Regions from separate parts of the Homo sapiens genome. Here region 2 is linked to region 1. The links come from fine-mapping of genetic effects on gene expression. Tissue or cell type: blood mononuclear cells. Region 1 holds a variant in brackets; the other region holds the start of a gene. All regions are shown on one strand. Distances are from middle to middle.

What was found. PIP is the estimated chance that this variant, and not a neighbour inherited with it, causes the effect.
Region 2: it holds the start of TSPO, and the variant in region 1 is fine-mapped to the expression of TSPO in blood mononuclear cells (TOPMed, PIP above 0.99).

The regions. Positions count from the first base shown.
Region 1 is chr22:43,170,807-43,175,996 of GRCh38, forward strand. It overlaps TTLL12 (tubulin tyrosine ligase like 12), which reads right to left. Exons shown (of 14, transcript NM_015140.4): 7 at 3,693-3,809; 8 at 3,403-3,597; 9 at 2,909-3,020; 10 at 1,597-1,748; 11 at 1,013-1,094. Among named protein-coding and RNA genes, the nearest start is that of TTLL12, 14 kb to the right of the region's middle. The variant A/G (reference allele first, on the strand shown) is at 2,495.
Region 2 is chr22:43,148,758-43,153,879 of GRCh38, forward strand. It overlaps TSPO (translocator protein), which reads left to right and starts at 2,802. Exons shown (of 4, transcript NM_000714.6): 1 at 2,802-2,847. RefSeq lists a silencer at 2,554-2,773 and an enhancer at 3,395-3,494.

The sequences.
Region 1 (5,190 bases):
AGGGGGCTGAGGCAGAAGGATGGCTTGGGCCCAGGAGATTGAGGTTGCAGTGAGCCCAGATCATGCCTCCGCACTCCAGCCTGGGTGACAGCGTGAGACATTGTCTCTCAAAAAAACAAAACAAAACAAAAAACCTAAGTAAGCAAAACAGCAGCTTGAATGGTCAGGAACATACTCCTGCTGAAAAGAACCAAAGACATGCCTGGGAATGACAGCCACACGTTCAGGGGTCGGGGAGCGTTGGGGCTGGCTGCATGGGGAGTCCGCGGCACCTGCAAGGCTGGCGACAGGCAGGGTGGGGTAGGTGTTCTGTGCATCTGAAACACTCATTAACCAGCCAGGCCACAGAGGCCTTCCAGGACTTCCTTTCTTCCTTCCTGTACCCAGAGCTGGCCTCCTGCTTCTGTGCAGGCTGTGCCTACCTGTCCACGTACACTGGCTGGCCAGCTCTGGTTTCTCGCCCCCACCTTGGAAGGGCCTTTGTCCAGATGCCCCTGAGCTCCAGGTGCTCAGATGGTGCAGCTGCCATTCACTGAGTGCCCACTGCATGGGGCACCGCTCAACACTGTGCACCAGGGAGGACAGGAGGTCCTAGACCCGGGCAGGGTCACGGGCCAGCAGCCAGCCGGACCAGGTGGGGCCTCCCCGCCCCCGCCTGCCCTGGCACTCACAGGGTGGTCTGCTTTTCCGGTTGAAGTGGTGGTGAGGAGTAAGCCCCGGCTGGGAACACACTGTCTCAACCTGCTGCTGGACCCATCCCCCTCTGTGTCCACATTATCTCAAACACAGCCAGTGGCCCTCTGTGCCGTGGGGAGACCTACCTGAGACAACACAGAACCCAGCCTGGCTCATGATGGCAGCGCTAACAATCGCCTTCCATAGCAGGAACTCAGGAGGCGGCTCCTGGGACTGGCCTGTGTGCCAGTCCTCCTAGGAGGCAGTGTGGGCGGGGTGGGGTCGGGTGTGCCCTGGCCTCTGTGTGAACCTGCTCTGCACCTCCCTCAGGCCCTACCTGCTTCAGCACCACATCCGGGTCATAGTTCATGACCGTGAAGTGCTTCTCGTAGTCATCCAGGTCGTTGAGTGCAAAGGCCCTGGAAGACAAGTGTGCAGACACATATGGGTTCTTGAGCGGCCTTGTCCCTGCGAGGGAGGTGCCACCCACTCAGCCTTCCCAACTAGGGGTTCAGGGCTCAGGGCAGGACCACCTGCTGCTCAGGCGGGAGCCTGTTCCCTTGTCTGTGTGGCTGGGGGAGCCCCACAGCCCCACTGAGCTGGGGTGGAGGTGAGTGAGGTGCTAGCTGTGAAGCCTCTGCAGGTCCATAAAAATGGCACCTGGTTCTCATGTTGGTGCCCATTTTACAAAGAATGTTCACATCCATTACTGTGGGCAACACCAGAACTCTGAGGTGGGCAGGGCAAGTCACCGCCAATTAACACCAAGGGAGATGGGCTCCAAGGGCCGCTAGCTGGGTGAGTGATGGAGGGTGCCTTCCAACAACATTTTCTGATTCCAAAAAGGGCCCATCACCCACCCGCTACCTCCACCCGGTCACCCAGCTCCCCGACCCTGGACCCAGCCGGCCCTCCACTTACCGGTTGGAGAACCGCAGCCAGAACACATCATACACGAACAACCGTAGGGGCCTCACTGACCGCAGCAGCACGATGTAGCGGATGTCGAACTTGACCTTTCCCACGTCTTCTCGAAGGAACAACACGGGACTTTCGATGTACTTGGACACAACCTGGAGGACACAGGTGCAAGCTCGCTGGTGGCCAGGACAGAGCCCCCTGGGGCTCCCGAGCACACAAAGCCACGCAGGGGGCACAGACATGGCTGCACTTTACTCCTCCTTCTGCCTTTTCAAACCTGCCTAAGTTGCTGCAAAGTCTTTTTTTTTTTTTTGAGACAGAGTTTTGTTCTGTTGCCCAAGCTGGAGTGCGGTGGCACAATGTTGGCTCACTGCAACCTCTGCCTCCCGGGTTCAAGCGATTCTCCTGCCTCAGCCTCCTGAGTAGCTGGGATTACAGGTGCCCGCCACCACCCCCAGCTAATTTCTGTATTTTTAGTAGAGAAGGGGTTTCTCCATGTTGGCCAGGCTGGTTTCGAACTCTTGACCTCAGGTGATCCGCCCACCTTGGCCTCCCAAAGTGCTGGGATTACAGGTGTGAGCCACCGCACCCTGAAGCAAAGTCTTTATATCCATTTTTAATTGAAATGAAATATAAATTCTCACCCATAATTCCATCCACCCCCATCCCATGGCCTGAAGTCTCCACGACAATCGTCCTCATGATGCATTTCCCGCCAGCCTCTGACTATGTACACAGTCCAGGCAGATCCTGTGTCCTGCAATCCCAATACTGCTTCTGGATGTCCCCTCACTATGAATCTTTACCACGGCTCTGAGAGGCTCCTTGTCCAGGCTCAGCCACCTCACCCTGCTGGGCAGCCATACCTGGCACACTATGTGGTAGGAACTTTGCGATT[A/G]GACGCACCCAGGACAGTTCTTTTTTTAAAGACTGGGTCTTGCTCTGTCGCCCAGGGCGGAGTGCAGTGACGCGATCACAGCTCACTGCAGCCTCAACCTCCCGGGCTCAAGTGATCCTCCTGCCTTAGCCTCCTGAGAAGCTGGGACTACAGGTGTGTGCCAACATGCCCAGATAATTTTTAAAGTTTTTTCCCTTGTAGAAACGAGGTCTCCCTATGTTGCTCAGGTTGGTTCCAAACTTCTGGGCTCAAGTGATCCTCCTCCACTTCCCAGAGTGCTGAGATTACAGGTGTAAGCCACCCTGCCCAGCCTGGACCTGTCCATAAGGACCATGATGCTCGGTCCCCTTAGCCCCACCTCTCACTGTCCAGCCAGGGCCCTGAGCCCTGGGGCTCCTGGTCTGCGGGGCCCACCTTGGGGGTGCTCTCTCGGTGCCGGATGATGCTGTGCAGGCTCTTGGTGACGTGGGTGTCCAGGCTGCGCGCCAGGTTCCAGGGCTTGCAGATCCAGTGGTTGTCCTCGCCCCTGGGGAGCAGAAGGGCTGTCTGGGGGGCGCCTGGGGCCTGTGTTCCCAGATGGTGCCACCCCAGGACCCAGAGGCAGAAGAGGGCAGCCCACTTCTCCTTGGGAGCTGAGGGGGCACCAGAGAGCTGTCAGAGGCAGGGGCATGGGAAACAAGGAGGGGTTTGCCAGAGGCCAGGCAGCTGCGCTGCGGTGGAGAGGACAGCCCCAGCAAAAACCTGGAGAGGTCCTGCGGTCCGTGAAGACGGCCGTGACGTTCGGGGCCCACAGCTCGGCTCCTGCACCACGGTTTCCACAGTGGGTGCTCATGGAGGAGCAGGCGGACACAGACGCTGGGCCGGGGAAAAGGGCCATGGAGCACACCGATGCCGTGTCTGGGACTTACCACCTTTCCCGCTGCTGGAAGTAGCTGACAAACTGGGGCAGCTCAGTGCGCAGGTTGAAGGTTCGGGGCAGCCAGGGTGGGCCCTCGGGGCCACCTGCCCGGCGCGCGATGGAGGCCAGGCAGTCCTTGACAGTCAGCAGGTTCTCGCAGGGGAACTGGTTCAGCAGCACGCCTGGCCTCTCCTGGCTGAGTTTCCTGCAGGGCGGAGGCAGGTGCGCCAGCTCAAGGGGAGGCCGGCAGTGCCTAGAAGCCCTGACTGGGAGGGCCCCTGCGGCCAGAGGTGCCCTCACCTGTAGTCCTTGAAGTGTGAGAAGTTGAAGAGGATGTCGGCGTCCGCCTCACTCTGGGTGAGGGTGAAGCGCGGGTGGGTGAGGCTGCTGGCCACCTGCTGCACGTCCGTGTAGACCCTGTGGGGAGAGCCCGAGCTGGGTGATCCCGGCTCCCAAGTGTCCAAGCGGGACTCCAGCACTAGCCCTGGCTCAGGGACTCCCTTCCCTGTTTTGAAGCTAATGAGGCAGAGGCAAGTCCTGGGTTCGAGTCATGATGCTGGACAGCCCGGGTTCAGACCCCGCTCCCTCCAATCTGCTGAGGGAGGGGCGCAACCTGTACCCTTGTGACCCCTGGTTCCCCATCCGCAGGACTGGACCACACCGTCCACCTCACATTTGTCATTAAAATTAAATGGCATAATTTGGGTGTTTATTATGTGCTAGTTCTTTCCTCTCACATGCAAAACAAGAGGATGAGGCTGGGGCCACCAATCTCAGACAGGCACACCAAGGGCCTCCGTGAGGCCTCTGCCCCAGAGGAGGTGGAGGGACCTTAGGCCCTGGCCAGGTCACCACAAGACTCACGTCTCAGCAAGAGCCCCTGGGCTGCCCAGCTGGGGCAGAGGCCAGCAGGGAGGAAAGCCCTCAGGCCCGGTGGAGGGGGCAGAGTGGAGCAGCCTGCCTGTTCTTGGCTAGACCAGGTTTGGGCAGCCAAGGGGAGTGTCTGGGAGCCTCAGGGAGGGGCTCCTGTGAAGGCTGAGGTGGAATCTGCTCTGCATCTCTGGGTCCTCACCTGTGCCTGCTTCTGCAAGGTGTCCCGCCTGGACCTGCCGGCCTGGCTTTCCTTAACTCAACAGCCACACCTGCAGCCTCCTGGGAGGGGCCCCTACTGGCAGCCCGGGTGCCTGTTGTGGGTGCCCAGCATGTTCCTGGCCAGCAAAGGCTCCCTGCTGTGGGGAGGGCTGGCATGCACAGGCCTGGCTAGTGTCGGTTTCCAGGACTGGATGAGCATCGTATCCAGGTAAGCGGAGCAGCCCCATGACATGCAAGGTTGGTAACAGGACCCCTTGGTGCCCAGAGGACAGGGGTGGGATGGGGACCAGTGGTGGCCAACGCTTCTGCCCAGGGGGCCCTTTACCCACTCACTGCCAGCATTTCCATGGCCTATTCCTATTTTTAACTTTCAAAGATGAATTTATTTTATTTTTTTTTAAGGAGTCTTGCTCTGTAGCCCAGGCTGGAGTGCAGTGGCCCGATCTCAGTTCACTGCAGGCTCTGCCTCCCAGGTTTCAAGTGATTCTTCTTCCTCCTTGGCCTCCCGAGTAGCTGTGATTACAGGCGCCAGCCACCATGCCCTACTAATTTTTTTTTTTTTTTTTTTTGTATTTTTAGTAGAGACGGGCTTTCACCATGCTGGCCAGGCTGGTGTTGAACTCCCGATCTCAGGCGATCTGCCTGGTTTGGCCTCCCAAAGTGCTGGGATTACAGGCATGAACCACTATGCCTGGCCTCATAGGTG
Region 2 (5,122 bases), 22 kb before region 1:
AGAACAGCTCATGCCCCTGACCATTTCCTGCTGAATGCGCATGCCACAGCTGTGCTCAACGTCCTCACAGGGGAGCCCCACCCACAACCATGCCCTCTGCCTGCCCCAGAGGGGCCTCTTGTCAGTGCCCACAGAGGCCGGGCCCAGCCTGTACCCCAGGCGCTCAGCTGAGTTTATCTTCCCGGGAGTCTTCTGGCCTGGCCATGGTGCCTGTTCTGCCCCAGCTGGGGGTGTGCTGCCTCTCTGCACACATAGTACTCAGGGAAACACACCCGGGTGGGATTCATAAAACCCTAAAGGAAAGCAAGGGCGTGATCAACCCAAGTCAAAGTAAAGGTGATCTCTGGGGAGGGGAGGAATCGCTGGGGAGGTCACCAGGGCGCTCCTAGGACTCTCGTAATGTTCTGGTCATAACTGGGGAATGGGCACACCTGGTATTATTGTTGTAATGTGTACACGTGTGTGGTTTTTTTTTTTTTTTTTAAATTGAGTTTTGCTTTATCACCCAGGCTGGAGTGCAGAGGTGTGATCACGACTCACTGCAGCCTCCACCTCCCGGGTTAAAGTGATTCTCATGCTTCAGCCTCCCGAGTAGCTGGGATTAAAGGTGCCCGCCACAACGCCCAGCTAATTTTTGTATTTTTAGTAGAGATGGGGTTTCACCGTGTTGGCCAGGTTGGTCTCCAACTCCTGACCTGAAGTGATCTGCCTGCCTCGGCCTCCCGAAGTGCTAGGATTACAGGCGTGAGCCACTGCAACCAGCCACATGTGTGTCTTATTTTTATTTTATTTTATTTTTTGTTTTGTTTTTTTGAGAAAGAGTCTCACTGTGTCACCCAAGCTGGAGTGCAATGGCGTGATCTTGGCTCACTGAAACCTCCACCTCCCGGTTCAAGCGATTCTCCTGTGTCAGCCTCCTGAGTAGCTGGGATTACAGGCGCCTGCCACCATGCCCAGCTAATTTTTGTATTTTTAGTAGAGACTGGGTTTCACCATGTTGGTTAGGCTGGTGGCGAACTGCTGACCTCAGGTGATCCACCGGCCTCGGCCTCACAAAGTGCTGGGATTACAGGTGTGAGCCACCACGCCCGGCTAAGAAGGGATTTTTTTTTTTTTTTTTTGAGACGGAGTCTCGCTCTGTCACCAAGCTGGAGTGCAGTGGCACCGTCTCAGCTCACTGCAACCTCTGCCTCCTGGGTTCAAGAGATTCTCCTGCCTTAGCCTTCCAAGTAGCTGGGATTACAGGCACACACCACCATGCCCAGCTAATTTTTGTATTTTTAGTAGAGATGGGGTTTCACCATGTTGGCCAGGCTGGTCTCGAACTCCTGACCTAGTGATCCACCCACCTCGGCCTCCCAAAGTGCTGGGATTACAGGCATGAGCCACCGTGCCTGGCCAGAAGGAATTTTAAAAAAGAAAAAAAAAAAAAAAAACAAAGCTGCCAGGTGCGGTGGCTCACGCCTGTAATCCTAGCACTTTAGGAGGCCGAGGCAGTGGATCACTTCAGGTCAGGAGTTCGAGACTAGCCTGGCCAACATGGTGAAACCCCATCTCTACTAAAAATACAAAAATTAGCCGGGCATGGTGGCAGGCGCCTGTAATCCCAGCTACCGGGAGGCTGAGGGAGGAGAGAATCACTTGAACCCAGGAGGCAGAGGTTGCAGTGAGCCGAGATTGTGCCATTGTACTCTAGCCTAGGAGACAAGAGCGAAACTCCGTCTCAAAAAAAAAAAAAAAGAAACCCAGAAGAAAAAGATGAATGAAGAATGGAACCAAGCCTGGGTTATCCTTGTCTTCAGGCCAACACAGTAAAAAATAGATTTATGTATGTTTGTTTTTTAATAGAGGAAGAGGCTCACAAAGGCAAAAATGCCAGGTCCTAGGAAAGCCATACTGCAGCCTGGCTGGTCCCCAAGGAGGCTCCTGGCTTCTGTGTCTGGGTAGAAGTAGCCACAGTTCTCCTTGGACCCTGCAGGATCAGTTTGGGCCAACGTGGCTGGTTCAGGCTGATGGGGCGTTGCCAGGCTGAGTTGTCTGGAGGGAGCTGGGACAGCCTTGAACTGCAGCAAGACAGCCATAGTGCCAAGGGCCTGGGGCTGGACACACCCTGCATGGGAGTGGACCTGGGCAGCTGGAGGCCACCTCTGGGCTGTGATGATGGCAGCCTCCCCTCACTGAGCGCCGAGCATCTGAGGGGTGTCCTGCCTGCATCACCGCGTTGCGGCCTCATCAGTCCCACGACTTTGTGCCCATTTTACAGATGAGGAGATGGAGGCCCAGAGAGCCAGTCAGAAAGTGGCTGGGCCAGGACTAAGAGTGCAGCGCGCTGCCTCCGTGCCCTGCGTCAACAGCTCAAGGAACTGGGGTGCTCCGGAAATGGGGCCAAGGCTGCTGGGCAGCAGGACGCTCAGGGCCTTGGCCTCAGGAGAGGTAATTCCCCACTCGGAGATCGGTCTTGTTGCTGCATTTTATAGATGGGAAAAGTGAGGCTAGAAGAGACGACAAACGACACGCCGTTGGACACACGGCAACGTTTTAGATGTTGGGTCTGGCCGGGCGGCCGTCACCGGTCACCATGGGGAGGAGGAGGAGCCGAGAGACTTGCTCGCGGCCGGGGGGAGGCAGAAGCGCGTCCCGCGGGAGAGGTGGCTTTGAGGAGTGAGCTCCCGGTCCCGCGGGGACGCGAGTGGGCCCAGTGCCCGGGCTGCCAGGCGGGGCGGGGCGGGGCCGGGCGACTGAGAGGGGCGGGGCCTGGCGGCTGGGAGGGGCGGGGCGGATGCGGGGACAGCGGCCTGGCTAACTCCTGCCAGGCAGTGCCCTTCCCGGAGCGTGCCCTCGCCGCTGGTGAGTGAGGACGGGACGCGGAGGGGGCAGCGGGAAGTGGGGGCCCGCATGGCTGCGACTCTTGGCAGCGCCGCGGGACAGAGGGAAACTGAGGCCGGAGCCGCAGACTGGACACCCGAGGGGGCGACCCGGGGCAGCACTTGGGGCTCGGCTACCGGGTCAGGGGGCGGCGGGCAGCAGAGTCTGGGCCTCCGCGGCCGGGGTTCCAGCGCGGGCCGCCTCCGGCTGGGGGTTCGGGAGGGAAAACTTGGACAACCCTGCCACGCCCAGCCCTTGGCCGCGTGGCTTCTCCTGCAGGAAGCGCGGTCCCAGGAGTGGCCGACGCTCCCTCTCCTGCCCATTCCGCGGATGGGCAATCCCAGGCGGAACTCCCTTGAGGGTCTCAGAATATCTGGGAGACCTCGGGCTCTTGATCTCCGAGACACCCCGTTTCGTAGTGGAGAACAGTCCAGATCGGGGAAGTTTATTTTGCCCAAAGCCGGTTAGAGGCCCCCTGGCCCTCGATTCCCAGTGCGGGGCTCAGGTGCGTTGCAGCCTAGACGGGTCTTACTGTGAGCCGAGCAGCCTCTGGGACCTGTCTGCTTCCCCTACCCCTTGCAAAGAAGCCGGAGCCCAGGTAGGAGAAGCGGGGGCTTCCTGCTGTGAACGCGCTGCTGGCCAGGGCAGCTGCCAGAGGCCATGGCCTGGCGTGGGCCTGGAGCCCCTCTGGCCAGCCTGCCAGGGGCCAGGGCTACGGGATACCAGCAGCGTGCCCTGGGCTGGATGGCAGGAGAGACAGGACTTGAGGCTGTCCCAGAATGGGCTCAGGCAGGGCGAGGATATCAGGGGAGGTGGTGTACAGGAAGCAGCCGCCCAGCTTGCCTGGCACACAGCAAGCCCTGCCCATGAAGGCCTACTGCCAGAACAGTGGGCGAGGCCCGGCGTCTCTGTGGAGTCGGTGGGGCCCGGGACAGGGCAGCCTGAGGCAGGTTTCCACTGGCGGTGAAAGGGGCCGTGTGGCAAGGACAGGAGAGCCAGCCTCAGCCCAGCAGGGGAAGGCGGCCCCTGAGTCTCCACCTGGCTGCTGGCAGCCCCACAGGGAGGTTCGGCGAAACTGAGGCTTGCCAAAGAAGCCTTTGTCCAGAGTCACGCAGCTGGCGCGGTGGAGCCAGGGCCAGAACCCGTGCAGGCTGATCCCAGCCTGCCTTCTCCACTGTGCCCCGAGGACCACTTTCTTTCCTGGGAGTGTGTGTGTGCACATGTGCTGTGTCCTGTCGTCTGTACACACTTGTGCCTGGCGTGAGGCAGGATGTCTGGCTGGATCTACCAGAAAGTATTCACAGCGGGTTCTCCAGCTGGGGTGAGGGGCTTGGGCTCGCAGGGAGGGAGCCTACTTTTCACTTTAGCTTGCTTTCTTCCTTTCTTCCGTCCTTCCTTCCTCCCTCCCTCCCCTCCCCTTCCCACCCCTTCTTTCTCTTTCTTCTTTCTCTTTCTTTCTTTCTTTCCTTCCTTCCTTCTTTCCTTTCTCTTTCTCTTTTTTTCTTTCTTCCCCTTCCTTCCTTCCTTTCTTGTTTTTGTTTGTTTGTTTGAGACAGGGTCTCACTCTGGTATGCAGGCTGGAGTGCAGTGATGCAATCATAGCTCACTGCAGTCTCCTGCAGAACTCCTGGGCTCAAGCGATCCTCCCACCTCAGCCTCCCAAAGTGCTGGGATTACAGGCATGAGCCACTGTTCCTGGCTTATTTGTGTTTTCTTTTTTTTTTTTTTTTTTTTTTTTTTGAGACGGAGTCTCGCTCTGTCGCCCAGGCCGGACTGCGGACTGCAGTGGCGCAATCTCGGCTCACTGCAAGCTCCGCTTCCCGGGTTCACGCCATTCTCCTGCCTCAGCCTCCCGAGTAGCTGGGACTACAGGCGCCTGCCACCGCGCCCGGCTAATTTTTTGTATTTTTAGTAGAGACGGGGTTTCACCTTGTTAGCCAGGATGGTCTCGATCTCCTGACCTCATGATCCACCCGCCTCGGCCTCCCAAAGTGCTGGGATTACAGGCGTGAGCCACCGCGCCCGGCTTATTTGTGTTTTCTTTACTTTTGATGGTGCAAACAATGCTTGGATGTGCTCTCTGTTTAAAACGGTAGTCTTTTTTATTTTTTTTTTTAACCACTAGACCACTAGGGAAGTCATTCTTAATTTCTTATTTTTATTTATATATATATTTTTTGAGACGGTGTCTCGCTCCATTGCCCAGGCTGGAGTGCAGTGGCTCCAGCTGGGCTCACTGCAACCTCCGCCTCCAGAG